4 separate regions of the Homo sapiens genome follow, and regions 1, 2 and 4 are each linked to region 3. Evidence: fine-mapped expression QTL. A gene starts in region 3. Each other region holds a variant in brackets. All regions are shown on one strand. Distances are between the middles of the regions. Region 1 has its middle 17 kb from the start of LINC01514. Region 2 overlaps TLX1NB (TLX1 neighbor). Region 3 holds the start of SFXN3 (sideroflexin 3). Region 4 overlaps TLX1 (T cell leukemia homeobox 1).

The links. PIP is the estimated chance that this variant, and not a neighbour inherited with it, causes the effect.
Region 1: its variant is the best candidate, but not a certain one, in a credible set for the expression of SFXN3 in lung (GTEx, PIP 0.64).
Region 2: its variant is the best candidate, but not a certain one, in a credible set for the expression of SFXN3 in nasal epithelium (TOPMed, PIP 0.51).
Region 4: its variant is the best candidate, but not a certain one, in a credible set for the expression of SFXN3 in sigmoid colon (GTEx, PIP 0.66).

Annotation. Positions count from the first base shown.
Region 1 is chr10:101,155,091-101,162,562 of GRCh38, reverse strand. No RefSeq gene overlaps it. Among named protein-coding and RNA genes, the nearest start is that of LINC01514, 17 kb to the left of the region's middle. The variant C/T (reference allele first, on the strand shown) is at 3,520.
Region 2 is chr10:101,093,475-101,100,946 of GRCh38, reverse strand. All of the region lies in intron 2 of TLX1NB (TLX1 neighbor), which reads left to right. Among named protein-coding and RNA genes, the nearest start is that of TLX1NB, 34 kb to the left of the region's middle. RefSeq lists an enhancer at 5,308-5,427. The variant A/T (reference allele first, on the strand shown) is at 4,221.
Region 3 is chr10:101,028,778-101,036,031 of GRCh38, reverse strand. SFXN3 (sideroflexin 3) reads right to left here and starts at 4,798. Exons shown (of 12, transcript NM_030971.6): 1 at 4,498-4,798; 2 at 3,550-3,718; 3 at 1,177-1,340; 4 at 365-535; 5 at 1-29. The coding sequence starts at 1,337. It overlaps PDZD7 (PDZ domain containing 7), which reads left to right and starts at 4,903. Exons shown (of 17, transcript NM_001195263.2): 1 at 4,903-4,959; 2 at 5,648-6,038. The coding sequence starts at 5,813. RefSeq lists an enhancer at 4,276-4,485.
Region 4 is chr10:101,137,311-101,144,782 of GRCh38, reverse strand. TLX1 (T cell leukemia homeobox 1) reads right to left here. Exons shown (of 3, transcript NM_005521.4): 3 at 6,994-7,472. It also overlaps a transcript of TLX1NB not described here. Among named protein-coding and RNA genes, the nearest start is that of TLX1, 9.7 kb to the right of the region's middle. RefSeq lists an enhancer at 1,497-2,301. The variant C/T (reference allele first, on the strand shown) is at 4,085.

The sequences.
Region 1 (7,472 bases), 130 kb before region 3:
GGAGGTTATGTGGCTTACACAAGGTCAACAACAGAGTGAGGACGGGACAAAAGGTCTGTCTCACTCCAAAGCACGTGGCCATCAGATCCTTTCTGGAAGCCACTGGGGCAGAGATCATGGGGTTCAAAATGACAAGAGCACATTCCTAACTCAGGAAAGACATTTGAGGGAGAATGCCCCTTTATCCCATCTTGGAAAGGACTAGGGGCTTGGCTGGGGGTTAGCAAGTGCAGAGAAATGAAGCCTTTCTGGCCTGGAGGGTCCAGACGTGTCAGTAGCCAGTGCTCCAACCCCATTGGTGCTGCTCTAGGGGATGGGCCCTGTGGATGCCCAGAAGGAATGGGAAGAACCAGGAAGGATTAAAAGGACATGATCGGTGGCTACTTGGGTAATTGGCTCTATTCCCGAGAATTTAGAGGAAAGAATCCTCGGCTTTACGAGAAAACACTAGGACAAGGCTATCAGAGCCACTTAGGCTCTGGAACACACTACGCTTAGCAGGGGCTGCAAATGTCCGGGAGACGCTTCCTAACAACTTTGTAAGATGCAAGTAACCGATCTTTAGTGGAAACAACTGGTACCTTGCGGCACACGGCACAGGCGCTGAAACACACAATTACAGGGCACGAGCTCCCCCTTGTGGCCATTCAGGGTGATAGCAGCCCTGAACTCAGGCATCTGGGGGAATTCCTTCCTCTGAACACTGGGAACCGATGGAGCACACACAATGTGTTGGGCCCTGGCTAAGCCATTTACATCCCACCTTCACAACAGCTCCTTTTCACCGGCGCTTGCCTTCCACTCTCCACTGTCAGGTGCTAGCTGAAGCTAGCTTACTTCCTCCCAGACGTCCCGCTGACCCCAGCCCCTGGGTCAAGTGCTTTGCACTTCTACAAAGGTTGGCTGTCTCTCCAGCACGTGTTGCACTTTAGTCTGATGAGTTTATTTAATTGTCTTCACCTATGGACCCTCGTTTCTTCAGGCAGCTTGGCTCTCCTTTACATACCTAGCAGAGAGAAGGGGCTGAATGAATGTTTGTCAAATGAATAAATGATGAATGAGAGAGCATTCCTGCATGCAGAGCTTGGTTACAGGGGCACCTAAATGAATAGCCCAGAGCATGCATTGCCCAAGGCTACACTCACTTTAGAGAGAATGTCTGCAAAGATCACTAACCTCACAATCACAAGCAGTTTCCCTTGGAAAATACCAAATGACTACAGGTTATATTCCTTCATATTTCTGCCCTTCCCTTACTGGTAAGATATAGAGAGAGTGGAAACATGGGGGAATTCTGTGCCCTGTGTGGTGAATTTTATGACATAACTGTCTGGAGTCCCTGCAGGTCTTGGGTGTGGTCACTGAAGTCAGGAAAGAGGGTCCATTGGATAACATCACCCAGCAAGTGAACCCTGAGAGGGTGTGTGAACCTGCTGGCTGACTTGGGGCCAACGTCAGTGGGGTCAGGGGTCACACTGTCTGTCTCTCAGTGTGTTACCTTCTGTGAGGTTTTAATGAGTGACCTTGGCCTCTCCCAGCCAGAGGTTTCTCCCCATTCATCATCTGGTGGAGATGGCAGCAGTACCAACAAAACTCCAGCTCCCCAAGTGCTACAGAAGCAACTTCTGCATCCTCTCAGGGCGCTGGGAAGACGTCCAGCAGTCATCGTTACAGAGGAAGATGGATGTGGCAGGGCTGGGATGGCAGTCCAAGTCTGCAGTTCCAAATGTGTGCTCTTAAGCTTTTTTGAATAAATAATATATTCATGCAATTCAAAATTCAAGCCATTCAAAACAGTAATGAGTAAGCCTTCCTTCCACCCCCTCTCTTAGGCACCCTATTTTCCTCCCAGAAAATGCCGTCATTTTCTTGGGTGTCCCTGCAGAGATATTCTATACAAACAGACATACATATTCTCCCCCCACCAACATACCAACACACCCTGTTCTGCATCTCATTCTTTTTTTTTTTTTTTTTTTTTTTTCGAGACAGAGCCTCACTCTGTTGCCCAGGCAGGAGTGCAGAGGCACAATCACAGCTCACTTCAGCCTCGACAACTCCCGGGCTCAGGTGATCCTCCCACCTCAACCTCCTGAGTAGCTGGGATTACAGGTGTGCACCACCATGCCCATTTAGTTTTTGTATTTTTTGTAGAGACAGTGGTTTACCAAGTTGCCCAGGCTGGTCTTGAACTCCTGGGCTCAAGCTATCCTCCTGCCTCAGCCTCCCAAAGTGTTGGAAGCATCAACACAGGCATGAGCCACATTGCCAGCACATCAACAGTATCTCAGAGTTTGTTCACATCAGTGTGGACTCATCCTTTTCATGGCTGCACACGATCACACTGATGGATTTATCTTCATGAATTTTCCCAGTCCTCTACTCATAGACATTTAAATTGTTTCCAATCTTGGCAAATATCTTTATAAATATTAAGTTGTTTCTAATCTTTACAACGAATGCTCCAAATGAATATGTTTTTACACAGGTCCTTTGACACACATGCATGTATATCTGGACCAAAGCCTCGTATGTGCTAAACCTTGTTGGTTTGCTCATTTTTTTGCCCATTCGTAGATGCAGGCTCTGAGGACACAGAGATGAATAGCACAGCCCCTCCCTGCAGGAGTGTGCACTTGGCAGAGATGGAGAGTGGGCCCAGGGAAGGGCTCTGACCTTGGGTGCTGGGACTCACATAGACCACGCTGTTCTTCATACTGCCCTGTGCCCTCCCCGTCTCTTGCTCTGTGCAGCCATCTTCTGTCCTGTCAGCGTCCTCTTGGGTAGCTTCTGGAAGGCCCGTTCAGAGATGCTAGCAACAGGTGCAGCATGGGGGGGTGCATTCTGTGGATCTCTGTGGGTGCAGTGTGGGAAGGCCCAGGTTGCCTGCCTCTGCTGGCCTCAAGACCCCCCCTTTACCTAAGATCTTGAAAGCAGAGGTGAAAAGTCCACCCAAATCCCACCATCCCTGACTAGAGAGTGGAGGCCCAATTTGGGGGGTACCCTGTGCCCTCAGCTTTAGAGTGTAAAATCAAGAGGAGTCAGAGAAATGAGAATCTGAAAAACAAAAACAAAAATGAAGGGAGGAATACAGATGGAGAAATGGGTCCACCAAAATGTGATGAGGCTACCTCCAGAGAAAATTACCAAGACCATTCTGTTAGTATTTTCCAGCTCCACAGGCCTCTGGAAGTTCCCAGACACCCTCCTCTTTGCAAGTAAGACAGTGATGCTCTTACCAGCACCAAGGCAAGGGGGTCTTAAACTCAGCCAAGTGGGGCAGGGCCAGCCCTTCAGGAGGGCCAACCCTGCAGCCTCTGCCCATTTGGGAAAGACCGTGAGTTGGATTTATGGTCTGGTGTGGCCTTGTCCCACTGACCAGCCCTAGTGATGCAAGGCATGTGAACCCCAAACTTGGGGCTTAGCCTAGGAGGGTTCTTGGCTTTGCAGAGCAAAGAATTCAAGGGTGAGCCAGTAGTGTTAGATAGCATTAGACAGCAACTGTTATTGAGATGGCAA[C/T]GTACAGCAGCAGGAGAGGTACTGCCCCTTGCAGACCATGGCTACCCCATAGGCAGTGTGCCCAGAGTGGCAGCTCAGAGGCAGCTCTGCAGTCATATTTGTCCCCGCTTTTAACTATATGCAAATTAAGTGGTGAGTTCTGCAGAAATTTCTAGAAAAAGAATGTTAACTTCTGGGTCACTGGGTGGTTGCTACAGAAAGAGGTGGTAACTTCTGGGTGTTGCCATGGCAACACTGGTGGGTGTGTCTTATGGAAAGGTGCTTCTGCCCTGACCCTGTTTTAGCTAGTCCTCAATTTGGTCCAGTGTCCAAGCCCTGCCTCCAGAGTTGAGTCCTGTCTCCTTCCTCACTAAGACAGACAATGTCCCCAGGCTCTAGTCTGGCCCCAGGTTCTCCTCCATACCTAGCATGTCTGTTAGCTAAGGACAATGGCCAGACCCAGTACATCTATGCATTCCATGAGGCGGGGCTTCTGAGTTCTGGGTCTCTGTCTTCTGAGACTAATGTGCTTCTGAGGCTGTCCTGGATCCTCACTCGGGAAAGGCAGCCAGGCTGTGGCTTGCCTGGGCAGAGTCCTAGGGGAGAAAGTGGGGGTGGAGATGGGGAAAGGAAGGAGTTGCCCCTGCTGCTGGGGCTCCCATAGGTGAGGGGTGTGGTAGGCAGTCTCTGAGATGACCCCCCGTGACCCCTGGTTGCTGTGGAATTCCCAAGCCCTTGTGAAATCTCCTCCACTCGAGCGTGGGCTGTACCCAGAGACTTGCTGAGAATGAATGGCAGAAGTGATAAGATGTGACTTTGGAGATTAGGTGACTTAAAGACAGGACTTCTATCTTGCTTGTTTTCTCAGCCTCTCTTGAGTACATGCTCTGAAGCATTTGCCATGTTGTGAGCTGCCCTATTGGGAGATTCACATGGCAAGGAACTGGGTGAGGCCACCAGCTCACGGCCAGTGAGAAACTGAGAAACTGAATCCTGCTAGCAACCATGTAAATGAACTTGGAAGTAGATGCTTCCTTAGTCAAGCCTTAGATGAAACTGCAGTCCCAGTTGAAACCTTGATCATATCCTTGAGAGATCTGGAGGCAGAGACACCCAGCTAGGCGGCCCCAAGATTCCTGACTCACAGACACTGTGAGAAAATAAATGTTTGTTGTTTTAAGCTGCTAACTTTTAGAGTGATTTGCTATGCAGCAGGAGATAATGGAAGGGTGTTCCTTTCCCGAATTCTTGGAAGACCAAATCTTATTCATCACTAGTGGCCTTCACCAGAACCCTAATCCTGGTGTCAATCACCCTGGAGCTCCACACATAGAAGTTCCCTTGAAAAGCTGCTAGATAGCAAATCAGCACCTGCAAAGCAGCGCAGCTTCCCTTACAACTTTTGGTTTGGGGTTTGCATTTTAAGCCACTGTTGCTTTCTCTATCTACTGCCCCTCTGTAGGTGAGACATAACATGCCCCATGGGTGGACATACAGACCTGTCGTATGTCAGTTTGGGTCACTCTGGAGGATGACTTCCCATCTCTTTAAGGTATCTCCCCAGGGATCCCCCAAAATGAGTTTTATTCATGTCATATAACTGTTTTCGGTTACACCATCATACCGTCCAAATCCATGAAACCCTTCCAGCATCTTCGTGTAATATGGTGGCTGGCAGGTGGACAAAAGCTTGATTTTATTAATTTGAATTGCATCCTTGGTACTCAGTACAATGCCTGGCACGTAGTAGGCATTCAGGAAGTATTTGTCAAAGCATCAGTTTGCTTAAAATGTTCCAGACAAGGAAAATCTGAGAGTGTAGAAATGAGGGGGTAAGGAGGATAATTCACTACTTGGGAGGCCTGGGGATCCTCCGGTCAGACCCCAGGAACAGAAACGGGGGAAAATCCTGAGACATTCCCTCACCAGACCCATCGAAGTCTGTGGCTACCCTGATAGCAAGAACCTACATGCAATACCAACTTTTACAACAATCTGCACCGTTTTATTATTATTATTACATATTTATATAATTCTATCATTATGTTATTATTATTTACGGTCACTATTTTACTGATGAGGAAACTGAGGCACAGAAAGGCAAGTCACTTGTCCAAGGCCAGACAGTCACTAGGCAGAAGAGTTAGGAGTGGACCCAGGCCAGCTGAGTGAAGTCGGCCTGACTTCCACCCACCATACTGACTCTCAGAACTTAGCAAAAATAGGACTGAGTGTGGTGGCTCATGCCTGTAATCCCATCACTTTGGGAGGCCAAGGTAAGAGGATCCCTTGAGGCCAGGTGTTGAAGAGCAGCCTGGGCAATGTAGCAAGACCCCATCTGTACCAAAAAAAAGAACTTAGCAAAAATACAGTACTTCCGTCACAACTCCCCACGTGGACCCAGACTTGCAAGGACAGGGCATCCCTCAGTCAAGGAAGTCTCTGTGACCAGATGTCCACAGCTTGGATGGAACATGGCAGGAATGAAGGTGAACACAGATGTGGGAGTCGTGAGGGTGGCTGAGCCAGACAAAAACCAAATTGAGGCTTCCCAGAGCTCTCCCCATAGAGGAGGGAACTTCCACACTCAAGAGCAGCAAAAAGAAGCCACTGCAGACAAACCTGGAAAATACCCCATGAAAGGAGGAGGAGGTGGCTAAGGAGCTACCCCATGTATCAGTGAGGGTTTCAGTGAAGGCAGCAGAGACCATGTAGCTAGACAGGAAGGGGTATGTTACCATGTATTAAATGATGCTTCGTGCTGTACTCCTCTCTCCAGTTAACTGAGCCCTGAATCTAAGCCTTGCATAAATATGTCTTATGAGTGCAACCTAAAAGTCACATCTGGCACTCTAGCTGCAAGGAAGTCTGGGGAATGTAATTTTTAGCTTTCTAGCCCCTGCAGTACAGGAATGCATACCAGAAGAAGGTTGGATGAATGCTGAGTGGACCAATTCACGGTATTTCCTGCACATTCCAAGCAATAGTGGAGGTTCTATCTATCCTCCTTTCCAGAATTCCATCAACTCAGCCCAGCTAGCCACACCCACCACCACCCCCATCTTCCCCAGCCCCAGCCTGACTGTCTCAAGAGGAAGGAGCTTCCCTACCCCATCTACCGTAGAGGTGTCTTACCTGTTTTGGCCCAAATATGACCGTGTGGCAACTCTGGGCACACTGCCTATAGGGTAGCCTTGCTCTGCAGGGAGCAGTTGGAAAACAAAAAATTTCTCTCTATATAATTTTTTTAATGTGACCTTGTTTTCCAGGTAAAACTAGTGTTCAGTAATTCTCACTGCCTGCCCCTGAAATGCCAAGGCCAGGCTGGTGGGCTTGGGGTCATTATTATCCTTGTCCCTCACTTTACTTGTCAACATTCCTTTCCTCATCCAACAGGTCCCAGTGGAGAGAGTCTTGGCTCATTTTAGCTCAGAGGATCTCCCTTAATGTCAGTCAGCTTTGGAGAATCTCAGACTTCAGGTTTTTTCCAAGTCTTGTCTCCTGGTGTCCTGATGACCAAATAATGTGAGGAGGGCTATGTCCCTACATTTCTAACCCCCCAAGATGACCTTGATCTCTGTGGATGATAGAAGGAGCCCAGTAACAACTATTTATTTATTTATTATTATTTGAGAGACAGGATCTTACTCTGTCACCCAGGCTGGAGTGCAGTGGTGTAGTCACAGCTCATTGCAGCCTTGACCTCCTGAGCTCAAGTGATCCTCCCACCTCAGCCTCCCAAGTAGTTGGGACTACAGGCATGTGCCACCATGCTTGGCTATTTAAAAAAATTTTTTTTGTAGAGATGGGATCTCGCTACATGGCCCAGGCTGGTCTCGAACTCCTGAGCTCAAGTGATCCTCCCACCTCAGCCTCCTGAAGTGATGAGATTACAGGCGTGAGCCACCACAAAAATCCTTGATTAAGAACCACTCTGACTTTGCCCTGAGGTAGACGCTGGGACAAAGCTGGTT
Region 2 (7,472 bases), 65 kb before region 3:
GCTGGTCTTGAACTCCTGGCCTCAAGTAGTCCTCCTGCCTTGGCCTCCCAAAGTGTTGGGATTACAGGCATGACCCACCATTCCGTGCCTAAACCTGTAATAATGCCTGAGTACCAACCCAGAAATTCTGGTCTGGGGGCAGCCTCAGCATCAGGATCTTTCAAGTCTTCCCTGGGTGATTCCTGTCTGATGTGCAGCCACGGTTGAGAACCACTGTGCTAAGTAGATGATTTCCAAATGTAGGTGCATGGACTAGGTGCCCCAGAATCATTTGAGGAAGCTCAGGGGAGGCTGGGAATGGAAGTGAAACAGGGCTGAAGACCCTGGGATCTTAGTGGGGAATGGCCTTCAGAAGGTCAGAAGGGGAACCTGAAGTGAGAGCCTCCTACTGGGGGGGCCTTCACCTCCCCAGAGGGAGGAGGCAGCAGAAGCCACAGCATGCTGGGCTGGGGTGAGATAGAGGAGAATCCCCTCAGATCCAGAGGAGAATAATGAGTGCTGATGGGCTGGTGCCGGTGGGGCAGGGCAGCCTTGGGTCAAACATGTGAAGCTGGAGTAGACAGGTATGGCACCACACCTGCTCACTCTCACCATCCCTAACCAGTCCTCCTGAGCCTGGACCTCTGGCCATGTAGCCTGCAGCTCTGGGACACCACCCACCCCAGCTTGGCACTTGGCTGGGGCCTGAGCATGTTGTGGGGGTGCAAGTGGGGGAGAGAGGCAGAGGATGGAGATTGCTTATTGACCTTCCCAGGGACCTACATTTGACAGATGACAAAGTGCTCCACCCACACCTGCACCTCGTCCTCATGATTACCCTGTGAGACAGTTTCCTCCCCATTTGCAGGTAGCGACATGTAGACTCAGAGAAGTCATGTGCTCAAAGCCACAGAGCTGGTCAACAGCAGAGCAGACGTTGGCCGTTGGAGTTCTGGGATTTTTCCTCTAAGAGACAGCAACTGTCTTTCCCATGCGTGTTTGTGCGCTCACACAATCATACACTTGTAAGCAGTCACACCCCACATGGTCACACTAGTGCACTGCTCTGTCATACTCATTATTTCAAAGACCCACATGTTTACACTCTCATACTCAGCCTGGACCCCACCTCACAGGCACACACCCACACACAGCCACAGACGAGCACACTCCCAATCTCCAGCGTGCACACTCACAAAGACACAAATGTGCCCATACTCACCCTAATGAGCCCCTGGTGGCCCTCCCTCCTTCCAGAGCTCACGTGCCCTGCCCCTTCCTCACTGTGTGTGTGCATGTGCATGGCAGGGATAGGAAGCAGCTGTCTGGCTCCAATAGTCCACCTCCCATCCCTCCACCTGCCACATTGTGGCTCCAGCCCCAGGGCAGAGGCTGCCTGTGTTTGGGCAGCAGCCAGGGTTGAATGAGTAAGAGGAACCAGAACAGAGATCAGAATAGAAACCCCACCCTCATCCAGACCCTCCTCAAGAACTCAGAGAACCAGAACCCCCCAACTCACATCCTGCAGCAGAGCCAGAGCTGAGCTCTGAGAAAGTTTGCCCTCAGCCGTGTGGACAGGGAGCTGACACATGACCAGGTTCATTTGGGACTGAGACAGCTTCCCTGGGTCTCCAGCAGGACTCTGGGGCCCCCTGAGTGGCCCAAGGGTCTCTTCAACCCTGAGTACTAAAGAGAGAGAGCCCCCTACAGAAGCCATGACCCTGAGCTTTCAAGGGGCTGATGGAGCCAACACAAAGTAAACCCCGCTCTCTACAGCACATCCGAAGCCTGGAGCAAAAACCTTGGGCTCAGAAGTCAGAACTAATTGGGTTTGAATCCAGTTCTGCCACTTGCTAGTGGAGCTAGTGCAGCTTTGGAACATTTACTTAACCTCTCAGCTCCCTCATCTATAAAGTGGGGCTGTTATATCCGTCTGCCTTGTAGGACAGAAAGATCAAATCGCAAAAGCATCTGGCACATCACATGGGAAGTGTTCGATAAATAGGAGCTGTTTTTTGTTTTCCTTGCTATTATCATTATATATATATATATATATATATATATATATATATATATATATATATATATATATATATATATATATATAATTAGAGACAAGGTCTCATTCTGATTTCCAGGCTGGAGTGCCATGGCACAGTCATAGCTCACTGTAGCTTCAACCGCCTGGGCTCAAGTGATCCTCCCCACTCAGCCTCCTGAAGTGCTGGGATTACAGGTGTGAGTCACCGCCCCTGGCCCTATTGTCATTATTTTTATTTTATTTTATTTTTTGAGATGGAGTCTTGCTCTGTCACTCAGGCTAGAATGCAGTGGCACCATCTCAGCTCACTGCAACCTCTGCCTCTCGGGTTCAAGCGATTCTCCCGCTTCAGCCTCCCGAGTAGCTGGGATTACAGGTGCCTGCCACCATGCCTGGCTAATGTTTGTATTTTTAATAGAGATGGGGTTTCACCATGTTGACCAAGCTGGTCTCGAATTCCTGGACTCAAGTGATCCACCCGCCTCGGCTTCCCAAAGTGCTGGGGTTATAGGTGTGAGCCATCGTGCCTGGCCCTGTTATCATTGTTATTAAAGGTGTTCCCAGATGTGATCATTGCAGAGATCAGCCAATGGGCAGATAAGCTGAGGTGGCCATTTGGGAAAAGCAGAAGGCAAGGGTAGGGGCAAAAGCAGGTACTGGGGGAGAATTCAGAGAGGGTGCAGTGAGTAAGAGGGCTCCTTCCCACTAAGGAGAAGCGCAGCTGGAGGGGCTGCTGAGCATGGCCTCTGCTGGGTCTCCTGGTTCCTGCCACAGAGATCAATGGGAGCTGGGGCCTCTCTCTAGTCATGGATGCCTGGCATTCCATCCTCTGATGCTCCAGACGGAAATCAGGGCCCACTCATTAGCAGGCACCACGTCCTGCTTCCCATTGCTCCCTGAGACACCTCGTTGTATTCTCCAGGGACTCCAGGGAGCCTGGAAGGTTTGAATTTTTCTCCCTTGTGGGCAATCAGACTGGGAAATGTGTTCTGCTAATTGACCTAGAGAGGGGAAACCAAAGCACAGCTTGTGCAAAGACCACACTCCAAGTCACAGGGACAATCCAACAGAGCTGGGTCCAGGATCCCTGACTTCTGCTACCATCCTCAGACACTGACCACAAGGTCTGAGAGGGGATTTAAAAAGATCTCAATAGGCCGGCCTGGGTTGAGGAGTCAAGATCTTTGTCCTCTGGAGGTGAGGCCAGACTTAGCCAGCAGCTGGGAAGAAGGAAGGCTTTTACAAGTCACGTCCCCACTGAAAAAAAAAAAAAAGGCTTCTGTTACATGAGACTGGAGAGAAGCTGGGAGACAGAGAGAGAGGTACTAAGACCAAGACACTGTCCCCTCTGTGGCCTGGGCCTACCTGAGGAGGCCAGTTACCCACGAGCCCCTGCTCCCCAGGGCCCTATCACTAGGAGCAGCTCTCATCACCTCCAAGCCCAAGCAGACCCCCCTTTATCAGGCCCCCTGGCACCAGCCTGTCTGAGCCTCCACCACCTCTGACGCCCAGGACGTTTGTTTTGGTATCTGTGGTGGCTGTAGTCAGAGCATAATTGAAGTTGAAACACCCACTTGGACCCCCTGAAGGATAAACAAGCGGGGCTGGGGCAGCCTTGGAACAGATGTGAAGACAGACATGAAGACAGCAGGTCCAGGAAGCCAGGCAAGCTGGCTGGGAAGGGCCAGAGGGCTGGCGGGAAGGGAAGGGGACCAGGCAGGAGGACAGTGAGGAGGCCAAAGGTGTGCCCACTTCCAGGGCGGTGGTGGCAGGGAAGTCAATACTCGGAGGCCAACTAGAAAAACCTCACAACTCACCCATCCTGGTCTGGGGCTGCCCTCAGGAAGCTGATCTAACGAGGGCATGAGCCTGGCTCTAAGGAAGTGTCTCGTACAGAGGTTCTCAGGCTTTAGGAAGCTTGGTAACAATTCAGTTATCTGGACCTCTTCCCCACAGTTTCCAGCTCAGTAGGTCTGAAGTAGGCACAGGACTTGCACTTGGGGAAACACTGGTCTTCATTGATGGGAATGTCTTGACCTTGCCTTCAGGAGATAGGGCCCTGCCTGGGGTTGGGAGTTCCCATCAGAACCCAGAGGGCCTGTTGGGGTCTGGGAGGGGCACTCCAGAATCCCAGCGGATATCTCCAGAGAGCTTAGCGGTGGGATGTACAGCAAGGACACCTAGGCAAGAACTGCCAAGG[A/T]GACACAGAGTTCCAGATGTTTTCCTAGGACTCCCATCTAGGCAGCTGGGGCAAAAGGAGGCCTTCAGAGCCTTGTTCTGCCAGCTTTGCCCTCTAGGCTCAAGGTATTTAAAGGACCGGAGCCCGCATCTTTGCTGGAAAGCAGCTCACTGGCTGGGTAACAAGGCAAATACTCTGCATCCTCTACACCATCCCAGTGCAGGCTCCGCCCTGCCTCAGTAGGTGATGTAAGGTGTGTGGGGAGGGGGTTGTGGAGGGGTGAAGGGCTGGAGGGGCACTCTGGCAAGCCCAGTGTTGCAGCCACAAGTCTCCTGAATCTTAGGACCCATTTGTATCTCTGAGCAGCTCTCCACTCTACATACAGGAGTGGGAGGAGACAGTGGGCCTGTGCGGGGACAGGTGTTCTTGATGGACTGGGTCTAAGCAACTCACAGTGCTGCATGTGTGCAGTGAAACAGATCCTGAGGGCGGGGCTTGCTGGCCCCCAGCTGACCACAGTACACAGTAGCTCCTGTCTTGGCTGCCTCCGAGAGTGCCCCAGCCAAGAGAGAGGGGTTGGGATGCAATGGATCAGAGCCTGGGAAGGACAGCCTGAAAGTCAGGCTGCAGGGGTGTTGGGCCAGGGCCAGGGAAGTCCATCTGGCAGCACCCACACCCTCTGGGGTCCCACTTGCCCACATACACCTGGGCCCCAATTTCCTCTCCTGAGACCATCCCATTTGAGGATGTCACCATGAGTGGTTTGATGTGTGAAGTGGGTCCTGTACTTTGGTCCCCTGAGGCTAAGAGCTCTCCCTGTCAGCAAGACCCCCTCTCCACCCACTCCCCATCACCCTCCGCTGGCGGATTCCCACCTTCCCAAAGGCATTTCCTTACCCAAATGCAGCCTCCCACCTCCCTGAGCTACTGTCCTGGGTATCAGGGCTGCCATCTGGTGGCCATTGCCATAACTACTGCCACCACCTTTTCCTGAGGCTGAGGCCATTTCAGAGGTGTGGCCAGAGAGCAGCACAGACCCCAGGGTAGGACAGGGAGCTGGGAGAGGCAGGTCTTCTGCCCCCGTGGACACGCCCACATCCTGCTTCCGGTGATGGGGAACTCCCAAGAGTTGGCCTTGATTGGCGGGAGAGTCTCTCAGGTGGTGAGCAGGAACTTCCAGGTAAAGGCTGGAAGGCTTTACTCTCCCGGAGCCTTAGGAAGCCCTGGGGCCACCCAACAGCCTCCTCCGCCCCATTCTGCCCTGTCTCTCCTGTCCAGAGCTGGAGAGGCGAGGCCGCAGCCCTGTTTCCTGGAGCTGAAGAGGTCCTATATATGCTCCTGGGGGGACAGATATTCTTGCATGGGGGTCCCCACTCCCTATCATCCTCTCAATCCCATGCCTGTGGCTCCATGCCTTGACCCACCAGTGAACACAACTAGGTGGACCCGGAGGTCTGAGGATTCACCTTGGAGATGGGAGGATGGAAGGCCTCATTACAGGATTCCTTCGCAGCCCAGCCACAGTGAATAATTTATGTACAAGGCGGAGAAGACAATAAATCAGCGGCAGTGATTAACATGAGCTATTCTACGCGTGGAAAAGATCTATGGCAGGAGGCTGCCAGGTTGCTGGTGATTAATGCCACTGTTTGCACTAGCTTCTGGGCCTTTATATTCAATTATGGGCCTGGAGTGTGTGTGGGGTCCTGGGATGGCATGGGGGACACTGGGGGCCCAGAAGGGAAGGCTTGATGCCTAGGACCAAGAGTGAGGTGATGACAGGTGGCAGTCTGACCCGTGGGCACCTTTACTGATGAGCAGGTGAAGTTAGTGGGATGGAGCAGTGGCTGTTTCTGTAATGGGAGTCACTTTATCCCTGGGGTCACTTCTAAATACTAGTCAAGGAGGTGCCTTGGTAAGTGGGCACAGGTGGAAGGAGGTATCCTTGGGAAAACCTGACTCTTCCAGAGTCAAGGGTTGGGTTTCTGAATCCCCTGCCTGCCCTGTGCTGCCATGGCCACGCTGCTAGGAGTGCAGGAACATCAGCCAGCCAGCCTGGGGTGGGGTCGGGGTGAGGTCAATGCTGGAAAAATTCCCCCACTGGCAACAGAGCCAGGGAGCCGGGGCCTGTCTCCACACTCTAGGGAGGGATGGCGGCAGGAGGGCGGGCTGGAGAAGAAGGCTCTGGGGTCTCTCTTCCCAGCTGATCCAGGAAGCCCGGGGAGGCCTCCTCCCTGGATTCCCACACTTGGGCCCCTTGTCCTCAGCCAGCTCCAGCTGGCCCCCGTCAATGCAGGGGCTCCAAAGACTAGTGGCGGCTTCGGGGTTAAGCGATTTCCCCCTGCCCAGCCCCCGCCCCAACCCTGGCTCCTGTCAGCTCCTTTCTTGTCTTCCTCCTCCTCCTTCTCTTTGGTGACCTCTGTGCAGTGTGGCTCTGCCTCCCCACAGAACCCCAGGGCTGTCATGAGGCACAGGGTTGGTATGGGGGAGGTGGGCTGACAGCTGGGCTCAGGGACCCTCTAGGCCAGGCTGGACTGAGGGGTGTGGAGAAACCACCCCCGCCTCCCTGCATCCTGGCTGGGAGCCGGCTCTTTCATTCTACCCACAGACCAGTGCTTCGGAATTCCAGTCCATGGTGGGAGGACATGCTGAAGGAAAGGGAGAAGGGAAGCTCAATGCCCTGGCCAGGGTGGGAGAGGGCACAGGAGGGGGCTGGCAGGGGCAGGCCAGAGTTTCTGGCTGAAGAGGGAAATCTCTGGTTCATCTCCCCCACCCCTCCTGCACACCTCAAGGCTTCTCAGGGAGCAGTTCTAAGTCCAATGGTGTGTGTCTGTGTGTGTGAGCCTGTGTATGAGAGTCCATATGTGTCTCTGAAGAGTGTCTGGCCCGTGGCTGTGTGTGTCTGCGTGTCTGAGCACTGCTGGGTCTCATGAGGGCCTGTGTGGGTGGGTGGGTGAACACACAGGCTTGAAGCTGACCCCCTCCCCGGGGCCCAGCTCACAGCCCTGCCTAGCCAGCCTTCCCCCACAGCAGTCTTCCTCAGCCCCTAATCCCCTGTTTGCCTGGCTCATCCCTAGGCTCTTTGGGACTCCATTAATGAGCCCCGGCCACCCCAAGACAAGCCCCGAATTAACTCCACTGCTGACCCTGACATGGACACCTGTAATTAGGCCAGCAGCAGCTGAAGCAGAGAAGCCCCAGGGGCTCCATGGGGTGAGGGCAAGGCTGGGCTGGGACAGGGAGCCTAATGCTCAGGAATGCTCTAAAAGCTGG
Region 3 (7,254 bases):
ACTGCCAGAACACCACGGTTGGGGTCTTCCTGAGGGAACAAAGACACTCACTTCTGCCCCGTCTACAGTGGCCCTCATCTTTAGACCCCTGTAATGAAACCAAAGGTTATTCCCCAAGCCTAAGAAGGGACCCAGTTAATGGCCCTAGAACCTGTTCTGGTAACCCCTATGTACCCCCACCCCCATTTATACAAACACACCTACTGTCTCTGGGGTGAGAGACCTCCTGAGGCTGAATTCTGAGGAATGGAAGCGATTCTGACACAATCTTTCACTCACCCAGTTGGCCCAGACAAGAAGCGCACCTAGTCAAGCTATGCTCTAGCTTAGGGCACTGAAGAAGGGGACGTGGGACAAGACCTGCCTGTAGAATGTGAGCATGCAGCCAGTGATGGTCATGTTCATGGGCACCTGGGCTGACATGCGGCCAATCAGGACCACCTTCTCCCCTGTGTCCGGATGGAAGGCGGAGTCATACACATACTTGGCCCTCCACAGCTGGTCCTCGGTGATCCCTGGGGTCACCACGCCGGCCCTGCAGAAGTTGGCAAGGAGCAGACAGGCTATGCCAGGGGGCAGATCTGCCCTCACAGGCCCCACCTGCCCAGCTCAGGGTAACTCTGGACAGAGAACCAGGAACTTCAGCCCCCAGTCTCAGCATAAGGAAGCTCCTTATCTTTGGGAGAGGGCCAAAGTTTCCCAGAAGTGGAGGCTCCTATTTCTATTTCCCTTATAGCCACACAAAGAGGGGTACCCTTCTGTTTCTGCCAAAATGCTGGGTCAGGGATGATGGTGGTTTCCAGTGGGTCAAAAATGGCTGCAAGCATTGCAAGAGTTTTTCCTCCCAAAGATAAGGGGATTTCCCTCCTATCTTCCTGGGACTCCACTTTGAGCACCTCTATCCTTGCAGAGGGTGACCCCGCAATGGGATAGATCCCTGTAGAGGTTTGTGATGCATAGAGCAGCCCCTCCCATAAATATCAATGCCATCTTCTCAACCCAAATGCCCTAAAATCCTTTGGGTTAAAGCTCTGTGATGCCAACAGACGGGGCTAGAGAGTGAGGGGATTGAGGGACAGGGTCACTGTCAAGCTTGAGGAGGCAGGTACAAAACATATTATATTAATCACAGAAAATGAGATCCTGGCACACAGGGTCAGATTGAGGGGTGGTCACCTGTAGTTCTGCACGATGTTCCGAGAAGCTTCCAGCTGTGCCCCGGACAGCAGCAGATTTCGAGGATCAGTAACAGTGAAAAAGTGCCGGGCTCTGCCCAGGAAAGTACTTTGGTCCCAGCGAGGTTCCTGGATGTTGATGTCTAAAGGCAATTCACCCATTTTCTGCAGGACAGAGATAAGGGTCAGAGCGGGAGTCCAAGGGTCCAAGGGCTCCAGCTAGGGGAAATCTTTGGTGCCCCTGCCCTGGCCCCTGAGCTTATCATCAGTCCCTTCAAGAGCTCAAGGTGACTAGATGTAGGGAAAAGAAAGAGAGATCAGACTGTTACTGTGTCTATGTAGAAAGGAAAGACATAAGAGACTCCATTTTGAAAAAGACCTGTACTTTAAACAATTGCTTTGCTGAGATGTTGTTAATTTGTAGCTTTGCCCCAGCCACTTTGCCCCAGCACTTTGACCCAATCTGGAGCTCACAAAAACATGTGTTGTATAAAATCAAGGTTTAAGGGATCTAGGGATGTGCAGGACGTGCCTTGTTAACAAAATGTTTACAAGCAGTATACTTGGTAAAAGTCATTGCCATTCTCTAGTCTCAATAAACCAGGGGCACAATTAACTGCGGAAAGCCACAGGGACTTCTGCCCTTGAAAGCGGGGTATCGTCCAAGGTTTCTTCCCATGCATAGTCTGAAATATGGCCTCGTGGGATGAGAAAGACCTGACCGTCCCCCAGCTTGACACCCATAAAGGGTCTGTGCTGAGGTGGATTAGTAAAAGAGGAAAGCCTCTTGCAGTTGAGATAGAGGAAGGCCACTGTCTCCTGCTTGCCCCTGGGAACTGAATGTCTCCATATAAAACGCGATTGCACATTTGTTCAATTCTGAGATAGGAGAAAAACCGCCCTATGGTGGGAGGTGAGATATGTTTGCAGTAATGCTGCCTTGTTATTCTTTACTCCGCTGAGATGTTTGGGTGGAGAGAAACATAAATCTGGCTTACATGCACATCTAGGCATAGTACCTTCCCTTGAACCTAATTATGACATAGATTCTTTTGCTCACATGTTTTTTGCTGACCTTCTCCTTATTATCAACCTGCTCTACTACTACATTCCTTTTTGCTGAAATAATGAAAATAATAATCAATAAAAACTGAGGGAACTCAGAGACCGGTGCCGGTGCAGATCCTTGGTATGCTGAACGCCGGTCCCCTGGGCCCACTGTTGTTTCTCTATACTTTGTCTCTGTGTCTTATTTCTTTTCTCAGTCTCTTGTCCCACCCTACTAGAAATACCCACAGGTGTGGAGGGGCAGGCCACCCCTTCAACTAGGTAGGTAAGCAAGGGTGTGGGGAGGAGCTGTTTCCTGGGCAATGTCCCAGCCCAGGGACCTGCAGCCACTGGAGGAGGGGGAAGGGAAGACCAGAAACAGGAAAACAGATCTCCTTGTGCTCTATCCTGGTACAGATTTTCATGAGTGAGGATTTACATATATGTGGTTGACACATAAGCAGCAACAAACATCCCAGCCACGTGTGCTACAGATGCACAAGAATATATAATATATATATTACACACCCATGCTCAGGTGAGCTTTAGGCCCCAGCTGCACTGAGACCTGGATACAAACCCCCAAGGCTGTTTTGGAAAATGGCACAAGACATCCCACACTCCAGTCCCTGATTGGAGGAGAGCAAGGCCTTACTGGCCACCCAGGGCTTATCTGTTCCAGATCTCAATCAGGGGACTCTGATGTCAGCCATGTGTGTGCATGTGGGCACGCACAAGTCCTCTCTACAGACCCATTTTTCTCCAACTCACACTGAATGACCCCAGGCTCTCCCTGGTCCCTGGCCAGGCAGGGCTGGCACAGACACTCATCCACCTCTCTCTGGGCCACTTGCCTCCGGATAAGAGCAGGATTCAGTGGCTGCTCCCTCCACCCAGCACAGAGAGGAAAGCCTGGTGCAGCCATCTGGCTGAGTTGGGCAGAATCCTACAGAATGACTAATCCTCTCCAGCCACACTTCCTCCCGCAGAGGCAGAGACGCCCTCCCCTCACACTCACATACCCACACACAAAGACACTATCATGCACACCCTGCCCAGACATACAGACAGAGTGGAGGTGTCCTGTATACACCGGCCTTCAAACACCTTTACAGGCGCACACTGTGCCCATCTGCAGACACTTGAATGTGTGACTACACACAGCCCCACCCTGACATTCCTCCCCCCAACCTCCCTTGTGCCCTGTGGACTTGGACCTCCACAGAGCCGAGGACATTGACTGCACCAGGACAGACAGTTTCAAGGCAGGCCTCCTTCTCTGACCCCCATTCCAGAACCCCGCCCGCCGGGGAGAGCGAGCACTTACGCTTTCCATCGCTCTCTGAAGCTCTCAGAACCGCCTTCCTCTCTGCCTCCGCTGTCGCCGCCGGGCCCTCCCAGCCATCACGCGGGACGTCACGCGTGACGCCGACCAGCAGGGAGGGGCAGGAGCTTCCCGGCCGCGCCCACCCGGTGGGCACGGGGATTGGCAGAACCTGAGGGCGGTGGGTGTCATTCGAGGCGATGCCCCCAGCCTGGGCCACCTGGACCAGGCCCTAAGCTGCTTCCCAGAGCCAATCCCACCTCGGGGATCAGTTCTGGCCCCCTCCCCAGCCAAAGGGAGGAGGGGCTGGAGCCGCGGGCGCTGCTCCCTTGGTTTACAGTCCCCTGGCGGGCCTCAGCAGACCCCCAGCCCTGCAGCAAGCGGTCTAGGTGCCCAGAGAGAAAGCCCCGGGCGCAGGTGGGCGGTGTGGAGGGGCGGTCCTCTGCTGGCGCGCCGGGAGGGACTCGGGTTACCGCCTGGCTTGTTTACTTGATGGCTGCCTTGGCAATGGCCTTTGGCTTGCTTGTCCCCCTGGGCTCCTACCCCAGTATCCACAAGCTCCTCTTGTAGCAGCGCGGCATTCGCATCACTTCACAGCCCCGTTCCTGTCGTGCCTGTGCCTCTTCTATGTCCCCAGCCCTCTCCCTGCTCCCCCTCTGTAACCCCTAGCTCCACTGTGTCCCTGGTCTCCTTACGCTCCCAACCCCTAGCCCTGCACCCCAGACCGTAGCCCCACCCCTGAGATGTGGAGGGGCAGACGACCCCAGGAACCTCGCGGTCTGCATCCGAGCAAGTGCATCAGAAGGATTCTTAGGATTCTTCCGGTCCTGGGACCAGCTGCCCCACCCTGCGACCATTCCAGAACTGGGTAGCCAGAGACGCCTTCTGACAGAGGAGGAGGATGCAAGTGAAGAAGGCACCCCCTCCGCCACGCACATACTCACAACTCACCCAGCCACCACACAGAGCACGCCTGCAGCAAACTCAGGCTCACGTCCCGCTCTGCCCCGTGACGTCCCTCCACGGAGGCCTCAAGGGTGCCCAGGGAGGGGTGGCAATTCCAGGAGCCCCGGTAGCTGGCTCGGCTCAGAGAAGAGGTGGTTCGAGCCGGAGGGGAACAAGCCAGACCCAAGCCCTAAATTTGCGGAATGAGCTAGGGCGTCAGAACCAGAACTGGGGTGGGTAAAGAACTCCGCTGCCCGGGACCAGGTAACGCTCGGCTGTCCCTGGCGCCTAAGGGAGGTGCCGGAATAGAATGACTGGCGGCCCTACCAGCCAATGGGAGCCCGGGGCGGTGCAGGCCAGCCCAATTCCCGCAGCCTCCGCGCAGCGTGGGTGGGGTTTGCCGGCTGCGGCAGTAGCTCTCGCCTGCGGGTGGTTTGACAAGGCTGGCGGCGCCACACCAGCGACCAGGTGAGGCCGACCAGGCACAAAGGGGTGGGGGGCCTGGAGGGCCGAGTTGATGTTGGGGTGCTTCATTCTAGGTCCCAGAGCTTCTCTGAGGGAACTGGCCCTGGGTTTTGCGCGGGATGTCGTGGGACCCCTCTCCAGCAGATCCTCCCCAAAGCTTGGGAGAGGTTCATGCAGCCTCTTTAGACCCGGAGCCGCAGCCTGGAGCCCGCGGGTGTCTGGGGGTCTTCCTGGGCCTCAGCTGTCTAAGGTCCTGAAGCCCTATCCTCGAGGCCCAGCCCGCCCCACGCAGCCCCCGCCCCACCCCGGGCCACCTCCATGCCCGCATATGCATGAGAGAGGTGATGCCATGAGCTGTCCTGACCTCTCTTTTGTCTCACACCTCTCTAAGCCCCAGGGCCCGCAGTAATCCCAACTCCACTCTCAACCTCTACTGAGGACTGGGGACGGGAGTAGATGACTCAGCCCCGAGCAGGAATGAGGGGTGAAAGGTTCCCACCTGCCTTGTATAAAGTCAGCGAGAGTCCAAGATGGTGCCTGGACGGGGCAGTTCTCTGGCCTAGGGTGAGACAGGAGGGGGGCCTAAGGCATGGGAGGGCAGGATGCTTAAACCAGGGGGAGGGGTGGAAGTTTTAGGGGGCAGCAGGGGAAACATTTACACCCCTCCCTCATCCCTGCTCTCCCTGCCCAGGCCTGGAGCTCACACTTCTGAGAGGCATCGCAAGCGAGGGCCTTCACGTTACTGAGACCCCAGCCCCGCACAGAGGCTCATGGAGCTCGAAGCACGCAGGGCTGGCCTCTCCAGAGCTAGCAGATTCCTTCTGGACCTGTAGGGTGCCGCCCTAGCCCAGCCGCCATGGCGCAGGGTTTCGCAGTGGGCTTCGACCCACTGGGCCTAGGAGACCTGAGCTCCGGCTCTCTGAGCTCCCTCTCCTCCCGAGGCCACCTAGGCAGCGACTCAGGCTCCACCGCAACGCGATACCTGCTAAGGAAGCAACAACGGCTGCTGAACGGGCCCCCCCGCGGAATCCGAGCCTCATCGCCCATGGGACGCGTCATCCTCATCAACTCCCCCATCGAAGGTAGGGGCGGGACCCAGCCACTGGCCTGGGTTGGGGAGGGTGGGGGTAGGGGACAATGGGAACTCAGCAGGAGGAGGCAGAGCCAGTATGATTGGGGGAATTCAAGAGATGGGAGTCACAGGGAGGTGGCAGGCCGCCTGGGAACCCATACACTCTTCCTCACCTGCCCTTGGCCTCTCCTCCAGGCCAATCCTGCAGGGGTCCAGGGTCGTAGAAGGGTCAGAGGAGGGAAAGAAGGCCATGGCAGCAGGGACAGGCATGCGTGTGGTATGCTAGCCCCTGGTGGACAAGGCAGGGGATTGAACTGGCCTCTCTCCCATGGGCTCTGCCCTTCTCCAGATCCATTGTGTGTACTTCTGGGGGATGGGGCAGGATAAAGAAGGACATCCTCCATCAACCAGTCCATTGTGTGACAAGCTCTGTGCTGGGCTGCGAGGAGTCAGTGCCCAAGCGGGTAGACAGAATTCAGGGCTTCCGTGCTGAAGGAGGGGAATGAAGGCAGCACAGCAAATGTTCAGAAGAGGAGGGTTGAGGGTGGAGAGGGAGCTCCATCAGGGAAGGGGAGACCTAAGCTTATGTAGTTGCTTAATGCCGCTTCATGGAGCACAATTCTATACCAGCCCTGGGGAGGTGTTACAAGGGACCTAGAGAGAAATCAGGCTCCCTCTTCACCTTCCAGGAATCTACAGTGTAGCAGGACAGAGCAATAAGAACAGCTGGTGGCAGGGGTGAGCTGTCACCAACAAAGGCTGGAAGTGAAAAGCATGGAGCATGGTAGGTGGGCACTTAGGAGCCAGCCTGGCTGTAGTGACAGATGTGAGGTGACTAACAGCTGATGAGCAAGACAGGACCTAGAATGCCAGGTGCGGAGCCAGGCCCCCTGAGTCTGAGCTTTCTGTGAGCAGGACCAGATAAATATCTCCAGCTCCTCTCCTCTTTCTTAGCCAGCAGAGCTCCCCTGGCTGGATCCCAGACTGGACTGTTCAGGCCCTGCTCCTCCCCCTCTGACCCAGCAGGGCATCTCTCTTCCCCTCCCTAGGCCACTGGAGCAGGGTGGGGCATGTTGCTCAGGGAGCAGGCTTTCCTCCACCAGTGCCCTGGCACGCTCACCCCTGTCATACACCAGTCTATGCTTCACCCTCTGGTGAGCACAGGGCACTGCTGAGGGTCACCACGGTCATTCTGGTGAGGGAGCAGAAGTCCCCAGAGGAGTTAG
Region 4 (7,472 bases), 110 kb before region 3:
GGTTAATTACAGGTTGGTCCTGTAATATGGGCAAGGAAATTGCAAGATCCTAAAACTTAATGAACTTACTCAAGGCTGGACAGCAGAGAAGCCAGGCTTAACATTTAGGCTGATCTTCAAAGACACTTCAACAGCTGCTTGGGGCTGAAAGAGGGTTTTTGGAAGAGGGCAGGTGCAGAAGGAGAGGGGATCTGGCATCAGAGGAGCAGTGCCAGGAACACGGAAAATAGCAGGACATAAAACACTGGGATTGGTGAGGCCTGTGGCATGTGGACAGTGCATTCTAAAATGTCTTATCAATGCTCTGGGAAAAAGAAAAGCCAAAACAGCCTATCAGAAGGGGATATTATTTGTGTCCCTATTTTTCATTTCTTTAAATAAAATGGAAAAATGCTCTTAAGCAAATAAAACAAGATTACAAGTCATGTTTGGCAGGCAACTTTAAAACCCTAGGATTAGATCTTAGATGTGGGGAAGTAGTTTAAGACCTTGATGCCTGAAGCAGTGTCAACATTACCAAAAGATTATTCTAAATGTGCAATCTCATCAAGATTCATCTCATCAGGCCCCATCAAGATCTAATGAATGAGAATCCACATTTTAACAAGATCCTTGGATGATTTTTGCACACACAAAAGTTTAAGACACTGGCAGGGGCTATTTGTATATAAATGAATACACCTTATATAGTATACAAAAGAGCCTTCCAGGGATGTTCCCCTACCCCCACCTCCCGTATCGTGTAGAAGGTGAGGGAAGGAGGCAAGGCCAAGCTCACCCGCTCGGTTCTTTCTTTCTTTCTTTTTTCTTTCTTTCTTTCTTTCTTTCTTTCTTTCTTTCTTTCTTTCTTTCTTCTTTCTTTCTTTTCTTTCGTTCTTCTTTCTTTCTGACAAGGTCTCACTCTGTCACCCAGGCTGGAGTGTACTGTCATTATCACAGTTCATTGCAGCCTTGACCTCCCAGGCTCAGGCAATCCTCCCACCTCAGCCTTCGGAGTAGCTAGGACTACAGCCGTGTGCCACCATGCCCGGCCTAAATATATAGCTGGGGGGGTCTCATCATGTTGCCCAGGCTGTTCTCGAACTCCTGGGCTCAAGCGATCCTCCCACCTTGGCCTCCCAAAGTGCTGGGACTCTAAGTGTGAGCCACCACGCCTGGCCTGCCATACTCTTTCTTTTTATAGTTTGATTGAATCTTACTAAGAGGTCACCAAGAAAACCTCTGGTAACTCCCTGACCTTCAAGTCTCACCCTCCTACCCACCTCAGCTCACTCCCCGATCCTCCAATCCACAGAGCAGATGGACAAGGAGAGGAAGGATTTTCCTTTCTGGTTCTCTGTTCCTTTGACTAATAAAGTGTGATTCATTGGCTTCTATTTTTAACTTTCTGTCAGTTTGAGTCCTTCCATTTTCTTGACCCAGAGAAGGGAGGGGAAGAGGTGAAAGTGCACGGAACCCCCTTCCAATCCCACAAGGCTTCAAGCCCTGCTGGGAAGACGTAGAGTGTGCGCTTGCAGTCAGTGCGGGGGAAGAGGGGGCGGCCACAGAGGCCTGGCAGAGTGGGGCCTGGAAGCCAGGCGCCTCACGGGGAGGAAGGTTCCAGTAGACTGGATGGGACTGAAGGCGATTTTCCCAGAGCTCTAGAGGACAAACACCCAGCCCCCCTCTAGACTAAGAGCTCCCTCCATAAAGCCAAATCTGACAGGAGTCTGGTAGGGTCTCATCTCCAATTCTCACTAATTCCATGATACTCCAGGACTCGGCCATCCCTCTCAAAGACCGTGGCTCTAGAGTTAGACCTCATGGTTGGAATGCTGGCCTCACTGTTTACCAGCCGCGGGCTCTCAGGCAAGCTGCTCAACCTCCGCCTCCCTGGTTCAGGCGATTCTCCTGCCTCAGCCTCTGGAGTACCTGGGATTACAGGCGCCCGCCGCCACTTCCGGCTAATTTTTGTATTTTTAGTAGAAACGGGGTTTCACCATGTTGGCCAGGCTGATCACGAACTCCTGACCTCAAGTGATCCGCCCGCCTCTGCCTCCCAAACTGCTGAGATTACAGGCGTGAGCCACCGCGCCTGGCCCCTGCTTAGTCTCTTTAAACTTCAATTTTCGTTATGTATAAAGCAGGGATAAAAATACCACTACCTCATAAGGTAGTTGCTAGGCATGAATTAGTACTCTTAAAGCATAGTGCAGTGCCTGGCACCAGCATATGCTCCATAACATTGCTCGCTAGTGTGATTATCATTCGTATTTTCCAACCTAGTCAGTAACAGCCACCCCTGCATTTCCGAGGGTGCCACGGAGAATACAAGCTCCCAGAGCCTCGGCTCGAAGTGCCTTGCTACGCGCGGCCCCTAGAGGGCGCCCAGAACTCACTCGTTCTGGGTTTCTGTGACCAAGTCCCAGGTCCAGCTCCCACTTCTGGGTGGCTGCTGAATCACGGCCGCGGCCTCCAGCTTTTGGGTCTTTTGGCTCTTCTCGCAGCAACCAAAGAAATGTGGGTTCTGGGTCCGTAGGGCATAAAACAGGAGGGGCAGGAGCAGCTCCCACCAAAGCCTTTCCCCAAGGAGGCACACAGTGGCAGGGGGCCCCCCGCACCCCTCACAATCTTCTCGCACACAAGGAGGCCAGATTTCCCCAGGCTTTGGGCAGGCAGTGGCGGCCGCTGGACCTTCTGGGCCTTGCTAGGGTCCTCAGCCAGTATCTAAGGTGGCCGCTGCTATCCCCAAGCTCAGCCTTAGGCACATGGGGTTCCCTTACCACCCGAGCTGCAGGGCTGGAACCTGAAGCCAGCTCCTAAGACAACCCCCACCCCCAGGCCAGCTGGGAATGGAGTTAGATCCTCCTCTGTAGGGGCTGGGGGAGGAGGGAAGGAGAGGAGGGGTGTCCAGGGGTAACCACTTACAGGAGGTGGCCTGGTCAGGTGTGAGCTTGCACCAGCAGTGCAGGCTCTGTGTGTGCCTGGCACAGCACACCTGTAGCTCCCCTCGTGTAACACTGCACACCCTGATTGTTGCATAGTTGAAGGAGGTATGTGAGGTTGTACCCAGCAATGCAGGCTGTGAGTGGGGGCATGTGAATTGTACCCACCCCTCAACAAAATGTAGGTACCCCATCACTCCCTGGAACTCACCCAGCCCTTCCTCACACCCCAACCTGCCACCCCTCACCCCTATCATGCACAGTCTTTGGAGTCTGCTCTGAGCTCCTTGGAAAACCTGACCTGACTCCAGCCTCTGCTCAGCCTGTTCCTATCAGATTCTCCAGGATAAGACATCCAGGTGAGGGTTCCGGGGTGGGAGGGGCCTCCCTGGGCCAACCAGGCCAGAGCTGAATGGGGGCAGAAGGCATTGGATGGGCCCTTTTGAGCCACGCAGGGAACGTGGTGGCAGCTCCTGCCAGTTGCTTGGCAACAGCCTGGCTGTGGAACTTCAAACTCTGAGCTGATCTGGAGGGTCTGGGGGCCCTGGTAGGGAGCAGGACTGGGGGGCTGTGTGGGAGTGACACATAAGTGTGAAAGTGGGCATGAGGGCAGCAGAAGGAGTAAAGCATGAGGGAGGAGGTCTCCTCTGGCACCTGAGCTGAAGGGCCCTCAGGGCAGCCCCAAGGCCGCAGCCTCCCGGTTGCCCTGCAGCCTGGCTGCTGAGTCCCAGCTGCTTCAGCTGGCTAGAGGTCCTTACTTAGTTGTCTCAAGCACCTGAAGCCTACCTTGCCCACCTGCGAGTCACTCGCCCCACAAGCAGGGCACCCATCTGAGTCCTGTGCCCAGGGCAAACCCCACAACTGCCTGGTAGTGGAGCCACGACAGGGCAGTCAGTGCTCAGGAGGTGCCACACAGCCCCCAAGCACAGATGCGGCCACACAAAGCCGCTATTATAGTTAACAGGTTGAGCCAGATTCTCTGTGTGCCACCCACCGCACTGCACAGGGCCTCTAGGACCCCATCCCTGCCTGGGTTCCTGGGGCCCCTCAGGCCGCCACCCACTCAACCAGAGGGCCAGATCTGAGGGGCAGGGCTCGCTGGCCGCAGGAATTTGGTGATTGCCGTCGGTTCTGAAGCCAAAGAAGGAAGCAGACCTCTC[C/T]GCGCAGGCAGGTTTGTTAATTCCCCTTCTCTCCCGGCACCTCTGCGAACAATTATTCCGATCGTTCTTTTTCTATTTTTGAACAGAGACGGGTCATTTCCGGCAGGGGAGGTAGAGGGAGAGTTTCGAGCTTTCTGTTGTGAGTAGTTGGCCTTGACTGTGACCCTCGCAGCCCCCCTCCCCTCCAGCCTCCGCCCCACTTGGGACGGAGTTTGCGGGTCCAGCCGCCACACCGGCCTTTCTCCCTGGCCGCGGCGCTCGGCGGACGCGGGATCCGCTGAGATTCCGTCTCAACGAATTCCGGGCGGAGAGGCGGGAGTCCTGCGTGTCCCGCCGCGCCGCGGGTCCCAGCGTCCCCAGGAGTCTGGCATCCCCGGGAGGCCTAGCCCAAGGGCAGGAGAGTCAGCGGGGCCCTACTGAAAGTGCACGACCCGGGCAGCCGGCGGCCGAACAGCTCCGGGAGCAGGCGAGCGGTATCCGGGAAGCTCAAAGGCCGCCCCCCGGACGCCCCAGGCCCCAGCGCTGGGATTGTACCTACCTGCGGAATGTCCTCTTCTGCATGAGTCCGCGTCGAGCTGGGCAGGGTCCGAGAGCTGCCGGGCTGAGGGCTCCGGCCTGCATGTGCTCTCCGCGGTTAGTGAGTGTGAGCCCTGTGATGTTCCTGAAGATGGGGGCTGGGGGGGAGGGAGGGTAGGAGGTGTTTTGGGGGACAGGGGTGTTGGGCCTAACTGTGCTCAAGAGAGGATGGGAGCGGGGGTGGAGAGCCCAGGCTTGGGAGCCAGCTTGGGGCTGCTGTGTTTGGGCCGGCCAGCCGCTCCCCACCTAACCCCTGTTCCTCTGTTAGGCAATCTGTGTCCAGAAAATGCTCGGAGTTCTCCGGACACAGCAGCCTCTAGAGGCGGTCTTGGGGAATTGGGAGGCGGGAAGAAGGCCACAGTCTCCCCTGGGGTCCTGCTGTGTGATCTGCGCCGGCCGGGAAGCATTGATCTTGAGTCCAAAAGAGGAGAGAAATCGCACCCCGAGAAGAAGGCGCGAGCTCGGTGGCTCCAGTCCTGCGGGAGCAGAGGGGACAGCAGACCTGCCCAGGTAGAGGGAGACGACTTCTGAGGTGCTGGAGGCTATTTCTGGATTTTGCGCGGCCTGGCGCTGGGTGCCACAGCCGGTGAATGCGGGAGACCTGCAGCAGACCCGGCGCTGCCGCCAGAACCTGCTCACTACGCTCCACACAGCTCGTCAGGGCCCAACCTGAGCACTCCGCGGGCCTGCGGGGATGGGGCGGAAAGGCTGGCTGCTGTCTTCGGACCCTGAACCCTCCCCTCTTTTTCTCTTTTCTTCATGTCTACACAAAGTGAGTGACAGAAGCCCCCTCTTATGCGGATATCCCAGGGGACCCCAGATGAGGGGGTGGATGACCAAGCCCACCCTCCACTCAGCCGAACTTCCCCATGGGCTTGCTGGGGTGGGAAGTTGCTGTGCTCACGACCTGTGTCACAGCCCTCATGGCTGCCGGGCAGGGGCAGGGTTGGGGGACAGTGGTTCTGACAGTTAGGGTGGCTCCCCACCCTCAGTATCCCGCAAACACTTCTGCAGAGCTTCCAGTGACCCCCACACCACGAACTTCCACTTTCAGCTGAAAAGTTCTCTCACTCTCCCATCCCAGAGAAAAAGCCTCTTACCCCTCCATTTCAACTCACCCCTAGGGTGATGAGTTCTGTAGACCCTCCACCACACAGCTTCTTCCAGAAAAGCAGACCCAAGTCAGTCTTGTCTAGGATAATTCGAATAGGCTGGGGACTGGCTGTTATGCCTGTGTGCATGTGTACTGTGGCTGCAGGTCTGGCAAGGGTGGTCTGGAGGGCTCCTGGAGGTTCCCAGAAAGTCAATTCTTTAGATCTCTCCTAGGCCAGGCTAGTGCTGGGAACTGGTAGGTCCCACTTACAGCACCAGAGAGGATTCTGGCCTTAATTTCTGATTCAATGTGCCCCAGTCTCTGCAGCTTGCTGGGTAAGCGTCTAGAGCCCCAGAACTTCAGCAGATGTTGGTCCCGCCACAATGTATCTGCGTATCGCACAACAGACTCCCACCAACACATACACCATCAGCACACAATTACACACACTCATACAGAACCATACCCACCCACTTGCAGTGATGGTCTCCCACAGTGATCCACACTCCCCACTACCTTTACTCCCCCAATTACATTCTGTCACACACAAGTAAATACAGGGAAAATGCACAGCTCACACATAATTACATCTCACACACAATTACACCCATAAAATTCAAGATGATCCACTTCAGAAGCAGTCACACATTTCACAGAAAAATAGATTTACAAAGAGAAACTAATACATATTCTCCCAAACATCAACACGATTCATACATAATCACAAACAATGGTTGATTACACAATTACCCAAAAAGAAACAGTCACATTCACATACGGTTACACACACACCACTACAAGCCCGTGCATACAATGATAGTTTCGATTTGCAACTTAAGCAGAAACAAGCATTTACACGCAAGAATTGCAAACACAATTATACACTTAAATACCATTATAAATATTCACTATTTGCTCGCATTGCTGATTGCTCACATTATCACAAACACACCACACACACACACACACACACACACACACACACGACTCTCACATCCAAAGAAATCCACATCCTCTCAGGCACTGGTAATCCCAGGAGAGCCTGGCTCTCCCTGCTCTCCTCAACTCTGCCTTCTCTCCATCTGTCCTCTTCCTTTCCTCTCTCCAGAGCCTTAGGGTCCTGCCCCGCAACATGTCTCTCAAGTTCAGGTACCAAGGGCTGCCCCTGAAGCATCAGCTCACACACCAAACCCAAGTAGCTGAAGGACGCTAGGGTCCGCAAGGAGCAGGCAGCCCTGACTCCGGATCCGGAGGCTTTTATTTATTTTTTTCACATAAATTACACAAGCACTTTATAAAATGGTTACACAGAAAACACCTTATAAGTGCATAAATTAACACCCCCCCACCCCTCAAATGGGTTCTGGAGAAATGGGCTGCATTTATGTGAAAACCTGTCTGTGCGTACCTGGATTGGGCTGGGATGTGTGGTGGGGGCCTGGCAGACCAAGTGAGGCTGTTGTAGCTGTTGGCTGTTGTGTGTGGTGTAGTGTGTCACAGTGTGGCCATGACCTTGTGTTTGTGCTGGAGGGAGTGCCATGCTGTTCAGGATGAGTCTGTGTCACCCCTGACCTGTGCCTGATCGTAAGGTCCAAAGTGTAAACACTGTGACCCTCTGTCTGGTTGACACTCTCCCATAGATGCCCATGTGTGGCTCTGGGGTGACACCAGGAGGGACAGTGACACCACCTGTGTGTGGGCCTATGGGTTTCCATGTGT